3 linked regions of the Homo sapiens genome follow. The protein of the gene in region 2 interacts with the protein of the main gene of each other region in a biochemical or structural test. Each region holds a gene or a part of one and is shown on either strand. Other genes may lie near its edges. The genes, in order: CDC25C, CDK1 and RPA1.

Region 1 (3,731 bases), on a different chromosome or scaffold from region 2:
AAAAGATGCCCCTGATATAATTATTAAATGAGAGGAAAAACAACAGATAACAAAACAATATAAACTGTTTTTGTAGAAAAGCAAAAACTGTATTTGTATATGTGTTTGTGAAAACACAGAAAAAAATCTGTAAGAATATGTACCTTCTGCAATTACACAGACAGTAGGGGGGAAAAAAAGAGTATATACTAAGCAATATTACCCTGGTTAATAAAGTTTGGGATAAATTTCTTCATTTTCTACTTTTTCTGTAACAACCAAGTATTATTTACATAATTTTAAAATATGTTTTTAAACAGAAAAAAGGTAAAAAGTCTCATACTTTCCCCTGTTCTGGATCTTCCCAGAAGAATAAGAAATACTTTCTCTCTGGAAAGGCTTAGGGCCTGGATCTACCACTAGAGCACTGTCAGGTTACCAAAGAGTACTTGGTGAGGATGCATATTTACACCAGGCATTCTCGGCAAACAGAGAAGATTCAGATCCAAAATGACTCACTGAAATACAGGATGGGTGTAGCCAAACTCACCTTGGAAAAATCACCAATCAGGTGCCCCTGGTTAGAATCTTCCTCCAGCATCTGAGTGATAGTAATGTCACACAGAGAGACTGTCTTCTTTAAACATAAGCCCTGAAGATGACAAGATTCCCACCCCACACCCAATCCTCATGTTAAAGGTTTAAAAACCAGTGGATGGAGTGGGCCATGGTGGCGCACATCTGTAATCCTAGCTACATGGGAGGCTGAGGTAGGGAGATCACTTGAGCCCAGGAGGCCAAGGCTATAGTGAGCTACGATTGCACCACTGCACTCCAGTCTGGGAGACAGAGTGAGACTCCATTTGTTTATTTATTATTTTTAATAATAAATAAATATTGAGGCTGCAGTGAGTCAAGACCATGCCACTGCAATCCAGCCTGGGTGACAGAGTGAGACCCCATCTCAGGGGAAAATAAATAAATAAATAAATAAGTTGATTTTATAAAATATCCAAAGATTTTAGAATTTTAATTTTTTATTTTATTTTTTTTTATTAGAGATGGGGTCATGCTATATTGACCAGGCTGGTCTTGAACTTCTGACCTTAAGTGATCCTCCCATCTATTTAATTTTTTTAAAGTTGGGGAGGGTAAAGGACAAAGGCTAAGTTTTTCAGAAGTTGCTTTCCACAAAACCAACCTGCTATATGATGTTGTTTCTGTCAGACTGCATGTAAAACAGCAGTAAAATATCCATACCAAAGTTCCCTTGTATTCTTTCAGATCTTAAGAAAAAGGGTTGGGAAGACGGTATGATGACAACATTTCTCTTTTTTTTTTTTTTTTTGAGACGGAGTCTTGCTCTGTTGCCCAGGCTGGAGTGCAGTGGCACAATCTTGGCTCACTGCAACCTCCACCTCCCGGGTTCAAGCGATTCTCCTGCCTCAGCCTCCTGAGTAGCCGGGACTACAGGCACATGCTGCCACGCCCAGCTGATTTCTTGTATTTTAGTAGAGACGGGGTTTCACCGTGTTGCCCAGTCTGGTCTTGAACTCCTGAGCTCAGGCAATCCGCCCGCCTCGGCCTCCCAAAGTGCTAGGATTATAGGCGTGAGCCACTGCACCCGGCCTATGACAACATTTCTAAAAGTACAATATAGATATACTTTATGTATCTATGTTATATAAATATTTTATATATATATATATATTTCACGTGGATACAGATGTAGAAAAGACAGAAAGATGGAAAGAACAAAGAGGAAAAAGTAAAAGTAAAGAGGAAGAAGACAAAAAAGGCATAATAAAACAATCCTCATACCAGAAAAGCAAAGACATGAGATAGAAGATGAACAAGATTTTCATCTTAAAAAGTTCTTACCTTCCTGAGCTTTCCTTGGCCAGAAAAATACTTTTTTTTAACTTTATCTGGTATTGTGTTGTCCTTGAATTTTTCCACCTGCTTCAGTCTTGGCCTGTTCAAGTTCTCTGGCATCGACGGGGAGCGATATAGGCCACTTCTGCTCACCTGTTTGGGAATATTAAACCCCCTAGTTCTTACTCCTCCAAGTGTGTCTGCAGACCTGCAGCAACAACATCTCCTGGGAGCTTCTTTGAAATGCAGGTTTCCAGATGTTAGGCCACACCCCAAACCTACTGAATTAAAATCTGCATTTTAACAAGATGCCCAGGTGATTTCTCAAGTTTGAGAAGCCTTGGGTAGGCAACCTGTCTTCATAGGCCCGTTAATATCTTTCTACCTGGACTGCATGATATTCCATCTCCATGGACGTCTTAACTAGCCAAACCAAATTCTGCAGCTGACTGTCTTAGATGCACCAGTTCTTCTAACAGAAAGCAAACACAAGCTCAGTCCCTCCAGTTATGTGACCAAAAAAAAAAAAAAAAAAAAAAACATAAGTCCATTTTGTCTCTGGGATCCTAGGACATTGACAATCAGGATTTAAGGACCTCAACAAACCTAAAGATGAAAAGCCAAGAAGAAAAATAGCAAAAGAAGCATCATGCAAGAAAAAAGGACACACTAAAATCAAATAGCATGCTGACCATTATAGGATGGATACTATGAAACCCATCAGGGAAAAAAAAGTGGCTCAAACGTCATGAAGAACTAGCCTTGAGAATTGCTTACACAGGAACAGATTAAAGTATAAGAGGATAGACTGTTGTTTATTTGAAAGGCATGGTTTGGGTGCTATATTCAGAGTTGAGGGTCTATCAAATGACCTCTGATAACACCTTCCAACTAATCCACAATTCTATCCTCTGTTGCCACATACTTTGAGATCTCTACCTCTCACCTAGAGAACAGGCAAAAGCTCCTTCTCTAAACACTTATCGCACTACCTGTTATGGACTGATTTAGGAGGGGGGCTATACAATAAGAGAGCCATAACTGGAAGGCAGCTTGATGATCAATGGTTTCTGGAAGAACGAAATAAGAATAACAACATTTTGCTTTATGACAGCTATGGATATTATGTTGTTTATCACACACATGGTCCTACCTCTTGTTCGTGATACCAGCTGATGGTACCGTCCACATTATACGTACCCTTAGACTCCTTCCAAACATCGCCCTATGTCCCCATCCACCCTACCCCCCAGACACTGATGACTGGACCATATTGCTGGTTGAACACATCTATTTAGTGGTCTAGAATAAGCAAAAATAATCTAGGCCAATCAGGTTCCCTCTCTTGGTTGCCTAACTTGGAAGATGGAGAAATAATTAGGCAGTAGCAGAAGCCAAAGCCCAAAAGGAAGAAGCCAAGAGATACAGTCAAGGCCACGAAGCCAGTGATGCATGAATGGATCAACCAAAGGTAGGGTAGGAAAGGAGATATGGTGAGGCACTGAGGAGTAGGGTGCCTGGTCTCCATGACAGACAGGACTTCATATAACTTCAATTTTCCCCTGAGAAGGCAGGGGAAAGCTAGATGAGGATTTCAAAAGGGGCTTCTCTAGAACACACCATAATAATTATGCTAAGAGCCATATTACTAAGAGTTTGGAATTAATTAGCTAATTGAAACTTATCTTTTTTTTTTTTTTTTTGAGATAGGGTCTCGCTGTCACTCTGGTTGGAGTGCAGTGGCACAATCTTAGCTCACTGCAACCTCTGCCTCTCAGGCTCAAGCGATCCTCCCAACTCAGCCTCCTGAGTAACTGGGACTACAGATGCGCATCACCATGCCCAGCCAATTTCTGTATTTTTTATAGAGAGAGGGT
Region 2 (3,500 bases):
TCCTCCTGCCATGTCCCTCTAGTACCCTCTACCTTAACAACATAGCAGCTGGTAAAGAAAAAATACTTAAAGGCTTCAGTTCCATTTTCACATAGCATGCAATGAATTTGGAGCTGAGAGGCAATAAATTGATACTGCCACAGAGTAGATATCTTTTATTGAGTTATTTCTTGACTTTCACAAATACAGAAAATAATCTAGCAATCACACACATTCAAAAGCCATCAAAAACCACTATTCCACTTGCCTCATGTGTATATACTCTGATAGGTATTCCAAAAGCTCTGGCAAGGCCAAAATCAGCCAGTTTAATTGTTCCTTTGTCATCAATCAAGAGATTTTGAGGTTTTAAGTCTCTGTGAAGAACTCTTCTAGAGTGACAAAACACAATCCCCTGTAGGATTTGGTATAAATAACTCTGGAAAAAGCAAGTAAAAGTTAGAAACTTAAGCGAAGTACATGATTTTCTAAATAATCTGTTTCAAAGACAAAAAATTAGGACGCAGAGAAATAATTTAATTACTAGAGCTTTCAGGCCATTTTAGGCTAATAAGCATTTGTGGGTGGGAAGCCCATTTATATACAACATCACATTTGTATACCTAAGAAAAGAATCTTCACCTTATAGACATATCTATAGTAATGTGAACACATTTAGTCTTTAAACATTTTTGGTCCCCGATCCTTAAATTACAAATTGGTTTTCTACACAGAAGCCTCTTGATTTTTCTTCTATATACCGCTACCAACTCTATTTTGTATCTTCAATACAGTTGGCCTTTTCTATCTTTCATTTTTACATATTCATTTCCTTCTTGAAAAAATTAGATTCTAAAAGTGATGGCAAAGATATTATGATTATATATTTCAATGGATAAAATTATCATAAAATGCTGCTTAGTTCAGAGAAAAGTGCTTTACAAGACATTTGTTGCCAAAGACAATGTCATTGACATCTGAAGTAGCATGGATATTACAAAAACAAAGTACACAGAAAAATGACTTACAGTTTGAAATTGGAAAGTAATACAGATGCTCCATCTTAGAGGGACAAGTGGTGTTCAAAAAACAAAACAAAACGGATGATCCATCTGGTTAAACTCATTCTAAGCTGAAAATACCTTGTCGAAATGCATTGAACACACCTAACCTACCAAACGTAGCTAAGCGTAGCCCACCTTAATTGTGCTCAAAACACTTACATTAGCATATAGTTGGAAGTGTTGAATACCTCATTATTTATTGAATACTGTACTGAAAGTGAAAAAACAGAATGGTTGTATGGGTAAATGAAGTATGGTTTCTAGTGAATGTGCATCATTTCTGCTTCATTGTAAAACTGAAAAATTGTAAGTAAAACCATTGTTGCCTGTACATAAAACCAGTTAGAACAACTGGCTAGCCATTTGGAAAAAGATAAAGCAGAATCTGTATCCCAGTTTTTAAGTCAAAATAAATCTTAATACAGAATTTAAGACAAAAAAAGTATGTGTGGAAGACAGGACTTACTAAAACTACCAGAAAAATACTGACATGTATTATTCTAATACATTCGATCTTTGAGTGAGGAAGACTTAAGCAAGACATAAAAGCAGAAAGTCCAAAAGTCATGCAAGATTGTTAAAGAACGTATCCTAACGAAAATATAGGCGGTTTATAATAGCTAAATATGAAGTGTTAAATTGTCATGAAATATAAAATTAAAACAATCTTAATATGCCTTTTTCACATAGTTAACAGATTGATAAAACCAAGTTTTGGCAATGATGTACTAAAACAATAAGTATTACACACCATGAGTATTTAAGAGTAAATTGCTACAAGTTTTTTAGGGGGCAACCGGCAATATCTATCAAAATGTAAATAAACATCTTCAATCCATCATTCCCATTCTAAAAATTTATCCTATAAAGTTGCATACGAAGATAAATATCTATAAGGACATTCAGTGCAGTACTGTTAATAAGAGCAACAATAACCAAGTTGGAAAATAATTTAAATGTTCATCAATATGGAAGTGGTTTAATTATATCAAAAATGTAAATAGACATAGGTAGATCTACGTCTTGATAATGTTTTACACAAAAAAGGGAAAATATGTATATATACATATGCAAATAAGTCCACCTTGTGTAAAAAAAAAAATCTTTATATACATACAAAGTGAACATACATACAAGTGTAAGATTACAAATAAAACTAACAGCGCTACCTCTGCAGAGTGGTTTGGTAGAACTGGTGCAAGAATAAGACACTTTTATATACTTCAGTACTTAAAACTATACAATTTTATAATTTACCTGAAATATAATAAATGTCTACAATAAATTGACCAAAACATGTTCAAAACTGGAATAAAACACCTACAACCACCACTCTGCCCTAGGCTTTCATTACTTTGTTTTACATGTATCTGACAGCCAAAGAAAGACCAGACTACCCTAGCTTCCAACAATACCTACCAGTTCTATGTTATCTCAGGCACTAATTTTTACTTACTAGAAACACTATCTGGTAATAACATGGGTATCTCTAACCTGTATAAACTAACCATGAGGGAGAAAAATGAAATACTTTTTCTTATTCTAACACTTTTTCCAAGCATATTCCCACAAAATGCAGGGACTTCTATATATAGTCCCTTTATATCCACAGTGCATAAATATTAATAAAATTAGTTAAGCTTTTACCTTAACAAGTGAAGAATCCATGTACTGACCAGGAGGGATAGAATCCAAGTATTTCTTCAGATCCATGGAAAGAAACTCAAAGATGAGATATAACCTGGAATCCTGCATAAGCACATCCTGAAGACTGGGGAAAAAAAATATATGAGAGAAGAATCCAGCAAACATTTTTGACCTCTGTTTCACAAAATAAAACTCCTTCCATAATTTCAGTTGCTATAATAAAAACTGGGGAAGACGTAGTAGCTTCCCTAATGGAAGAGACTCAAAACTCAAATTTAAGAAAGGAATCTCAGGGCAACTATTTAAAATTAAGCCTTGTACAGGAGGTGCTTATTTATAAGGAGCCTGTATTCAAAAGAACATATCTAGGTTGGCTACTAATTGCTGAGAGCTTATTTTTTCACTGAAGTGAATTATACAAATAAATTTTAAAGTGGTATCTGACCTTAAAAGCTACTTCCAATCTCTAGCCCCAGCCAAGTACAATTAGATTTTAACTTGGACTGTTAGGAAGACAGGTCTCCAAAAACACCCAATGCAAATACTTTAAGGAAAAAAAATCTTTTTCATTTGACCTAGCTACTTTTCTTAAGACTCTAACTAAAGGGTCTTCAGGAACTAGAGCTCCCCAAGTAGGAGAGAGTTGACAAAGCTCTATGAAAACGGCTTTACTCCCATGGCCAATTTACCTTGCTATTCTAGGCCCAAATATTAATCTACATCACCCAGCTCCTCCAACTCTGTTCCTGCTTTAACAGCCTGTTCTCTTTTACATATGTGCGGCATTCTCAACTACCAAAAATAGGGTTC
Region 3 (3,731 bases), on a different chromosome or scaffold from region 2:
TGCCCTCTCAGTGACAAACCACTTCACATTCGGAGCCATTGCCAAAAATGTCAGAGTAAGTCATGTTTGCAAGTTGCTTGTGATCTGATTTTCACTTTTGCTTTTCTGTCAGCCAAAATTTACAAGTGGACAAGAAATTTTAGCCAACCACCATACATTAGAGCAATAATTTCTAAAAAAAAATTAGGTTCTAATATTGATTCTGCCATCACACAAACATTTTGGGTGTTATATCAACTTCCAAAAAAAACATCTATTTTTTTCTCCCTATTTGGGAGTCTGAACAAACAGGAAATCTGCAGCACTTTGAAAAGAATGCTGAAGTACATTTTAGGAATTATTATTATTTTTGAGATGGAGTCTCACTCTGTCGCCCAGGCTGGAGTGCAGTGGTGCAATCTTGGCTGGCTCCAACCTCCACCTCCTTGGTTCAGGCGATTGATTCTCCTGCCTCAGCCTCCCAAGTAGCTGGGACTACAGGCACCTGCCACCATACCCAGCTAATTTTTGTATTTTTAGTATAAACGGGGTTTCACTATGTTGGCCAGGCTGGTCTCGAACTCCTGACCTCAAGTGATCTGTGCACCCTGGCCTCCCAAAGTGTTGGGATTACAGGCGTGAGCCACCACACCCGGCAATTTCAGGAATTATTAGCAAAACGAATGGACTGATTAACAGCTATCAAGACTGTCGTACTTCCATGGCATAGGAATTTTGTCTCATCGTCATGGTTTTGTTTAGTTTAAATAAAGCAAATAGAGAATCTGCACAGTCAGAACCCATTTCCCACAAAACCACTCCCATATCGAGGTCACAACTGTGTGCCTTCTGCTGTGTCCCAAAGCTCCACGGCGCTCACAAGCAGGCATCACCTCCCAGTGCTTCCAGTACACCTGCCAGCAAATCAGACTGTTTCCAGCTTCTCCTGCCCAGGAGGCTACTTATATATTTAGAAAACTACTTTCTACTGCTACAAACGCTGTCATTTAAGATCAAAGATTTTATTTATGACCTTAACCCTCTACTCCAGACAGCATCAAAAGACTATGACAGAGGGAAAAGCACAATAACAATCATGCTTCTCTCTGGCCTACTATTATTCTTCACCTCATAGGCCCGCAGAGCTGAGCCTTCTGTTTCTCGGCGAGCCCACTGCCCTCCGCAGAGCTGAGCCTTCTGTTTCCCAGCGAGCCCACTGCCCTCCGCAGAGCTGAGCCTTCTGTTTCCCGGCGAGCCCACTGCCCTCACTCCCCAGCATGACAAACACTCACACTTTCGTCAACCAGTTCTAGGGAGAAAAGCTTCCCTTCCCCTCGGGAGTTGCTCCAGGTACGGATCTGACTTTTGTTGGTAACACGAGCACAAATGGTCCACCTACAAACCAAATCGATCATATTAGTGTATGGGGTCTTCCTTGGAAAAGATCAAGTAAGAAATCATCTTCCTACAGCCTTTCTCGTCTTACGCATATTCCGTTTTCCAACCTGTATTTTAATCCAGCTAATTAAAACCCCAAGATGACACATGGGTTTGACAGTTTACAGAATAAGCAAATAGTAAAACATGCAAAGTGATTTAATACTAACTCATTCTCCTGTCAAATAAGTAAATTTATAAACTCTCTCCCTTCTCCAAAAAGCATCACCAAGGCAACCATATCCCCTTAATGAAAGGTTCTAAGCTGGAAAATACAGTAACACCAGCAATTATATTTTGCCACAGTTTTCAATTATGGGAACTGATATAACTGGTGTTACACTTCTGTCTCATTCGTAACACACCCTGAATAGAATACACGATGTTGGTGGACCATCAGGAAGAACACACTGAAGCAGCATGACCTTAGAGAGAAGCATGGAAAAAGGAGGCACAGGGCACATTAGGTACCCCACTTATAATTTCACAGGGAAAAATATCTTTCCTACGTTACAGAGTATTGAAGAATAAATATAAACATATCTGGAAGGATTCTGAAAAAAGAACTCTAATTTTTAACTATTCAAATTACTTTATTTTGTTTATTTATCTTGAGAGACGGAATCTCACTCTGTTACTCAGGCTGGAAGGCAGTGGCACAATCTTGGCTCACTGCAACCTCCGCCTCCTGGGTTCAAGCGATTCTTCTGCCTCAGCCTCCTGAGTAGCGGGGATTACAGGCGTGCTCCACAACACCTGGCTAATTTTTGTATTTTTAGTAGAGACACGGTTTCACCATGTTGGCCAGGCTGGTCTCAAACTCCCGACCTCAGGTGATCCACCCGCCTCAGCCTCCTAAAGTGCGGGGATTACGGGCATGAGCCACCGCGCCCGGCTTCAAATTAATTTTTGGTGGAAAAAAGTCATATAAAAGAAATTTATGTTCAGGGTATGTTCATGTGTTTAATACAAATAGTGCAGATTATTTTAGCCAACTAAACCAAAGACGAAGTCACCTGTTTATAGGAGAAGATTAAATGCCTTTTGAATTATCAGAAATATTTATTTTTACTCATAAGACTATCAACTGATTAAGCATTAAGTATTTTTAATTTCAAATTCTTTCAAAATGAATGAAACCCCACAGGCTATGGCAGATTGCTATTGTTACTATATTTTCCAACAAGAGTTAAAAGTTTGCCACAATTTGTACCCCTTTCCTCCTCAGCAAAAAAAAAAAAAAAAAAGAGTAAACCCATTCTATTTGGTGGTATTTGGTGGTGACCCTGAAGTTCACGCATAAATAACTCAAGAGTCCATAATAGCTTCTCCGATTTCATAAGTACACTCTGAACTTACTCTATGCAACAACTCACTTGGACTGGTAAGGAGTGAGGCTGGCAATGGGCACCACTTTGGACTGTGTTCCCCCAGAAGTGTGTGACAGGCTGGGACCTGCAGCTTTTCCAAATGTCTTTGAAGCACCATAAGCCTTAGAAACAGTAGAACCTTTAAAAACAAACGCAAACGAAAAGGAGTTATTACTATTCTACTTAGCTTTTTTATAGTAAGCTTTACAATAACTCTAAATTTTGGAGGTGCCACTAGTGAAATCATATAACATGAGAGGCAAAGCTTTTCCTTTTTATATGCAAGAGATACGCAGATCAAATAGAGACTGAGGCTGGAGGCTACAAAAGCAATCTAGGATGAAGGCTGCGCACACAGCAGCTCACTGCTATGTTTGCTGATGTCAGCCCCGAGGTCAAAGTAATAATGGTGACGAATCCAGACACTGCTGTTTCTGAAGGCCGCCCTCTTAAACACTTCTCTTGCCTCAACGGGCAAGATAATGGGTGAGAAAAAGAAAATCAACTTTTGTAACTGGTAAAACTGATGGCAAGGCACTAGTCACATGAAGAAAGACAGGATGTAAGGGACCTATCACAAATAGATCGCCTCCAAATCCCCAGACAACTCCCAGATCTCAATGCGTCTGAAGGACTAGCAAGTCTAGAATGAAGTCTGTAAGAATGAGTTTCGTCGGGTGCAAAGGGCAGGAATCAGTTTTTGGTCAAGATATGTTAAGTGGGTGACCACTAAGACCCTTCCGCCTCCTTAATCCAAACCTAAGCAGCTGCCCTGCGCTGGGAAAGAACAGGGAATCAGGTGAGTTCTTTTATACGCACCACGTATCTGCAAAACTCAACGTCCAAATTCAGAAAATATAATTTAGTTCAGTGATTTCATACCCTCTACATCAAAACATTTCTTCAGAATAGAATTTGGCTAAAAATATCAATACACCATCTATC

The links.
Region 1: the proteins of CDK1 (region 2) and CDC25C form a complex in vitro, tested with the Homo sapiens proteins (3 studies listed by BioGRID, with this or other methods).
Region 3: of the proteins of CDK1 (region 2) and RPA1, one has a biochemical effect on the other in vitro, tested with the Homo sapiens proteins (2 studies listed by BioGRID).

What each region holds. Positions count from the first base shown.
Region 1 is NC_000005.10:138,290,110-138,293,840, forward strand, and holds part of CDC25C (M-phase inducer phosphatase 3), read right to left. Parts: intron 2,008-3,731; coding exon 1,861-2,007; intron 632-1,860; coding exon 530-631; intron 1-529. UniProt on the Homo sapiens protein: Functions as a dosage-dependent inducer in mitotic control. Tyrosine protein phosphatase required for progression of the cell cycle. When phosphorylated, highly effective in activating G2 cells into prophase.
Region 2 is NC_000010.11:60,784,978-60,788,477, reverse strand, and holds part of CDK1 (cyclin-dependent kinase 1), read right to left. Parts: intron 2,815-3,500; coding exon 2,691-2,814; coding exon of another isoform or gene 2,679-2,690; exon of another isoform or gene 1,409-2,678; intron 419-1,408; coding exon 248-418; intron 1-247. UniProt on the Homo sapiens protein: Plays a key role in the control of the eukaryotic cell cycle by modulating the centrosome cycle as well as mitotic onset; promotes G2-M transition via association with multiple interphase cyclins.
Region 3 is NC_000017.11:1,874,855-1,878,585, reverse strand, and holds part of RPA1 (replication protein A 70 kDa DNA-binding subunit), read right to left. Parts: intron 2,926-3,731; coding exon 2,793-2,925; intron 1,375-2,792; coding exon 1,272-1,374; intron 1-1,271. UniProt on the Homo sapiens protein: As part of the heterotrimeric replication protein A complex (RPA/RP-A), binds and stabilizes single-stranded DNA intermediates that form during DNA replication or upon DNA stress.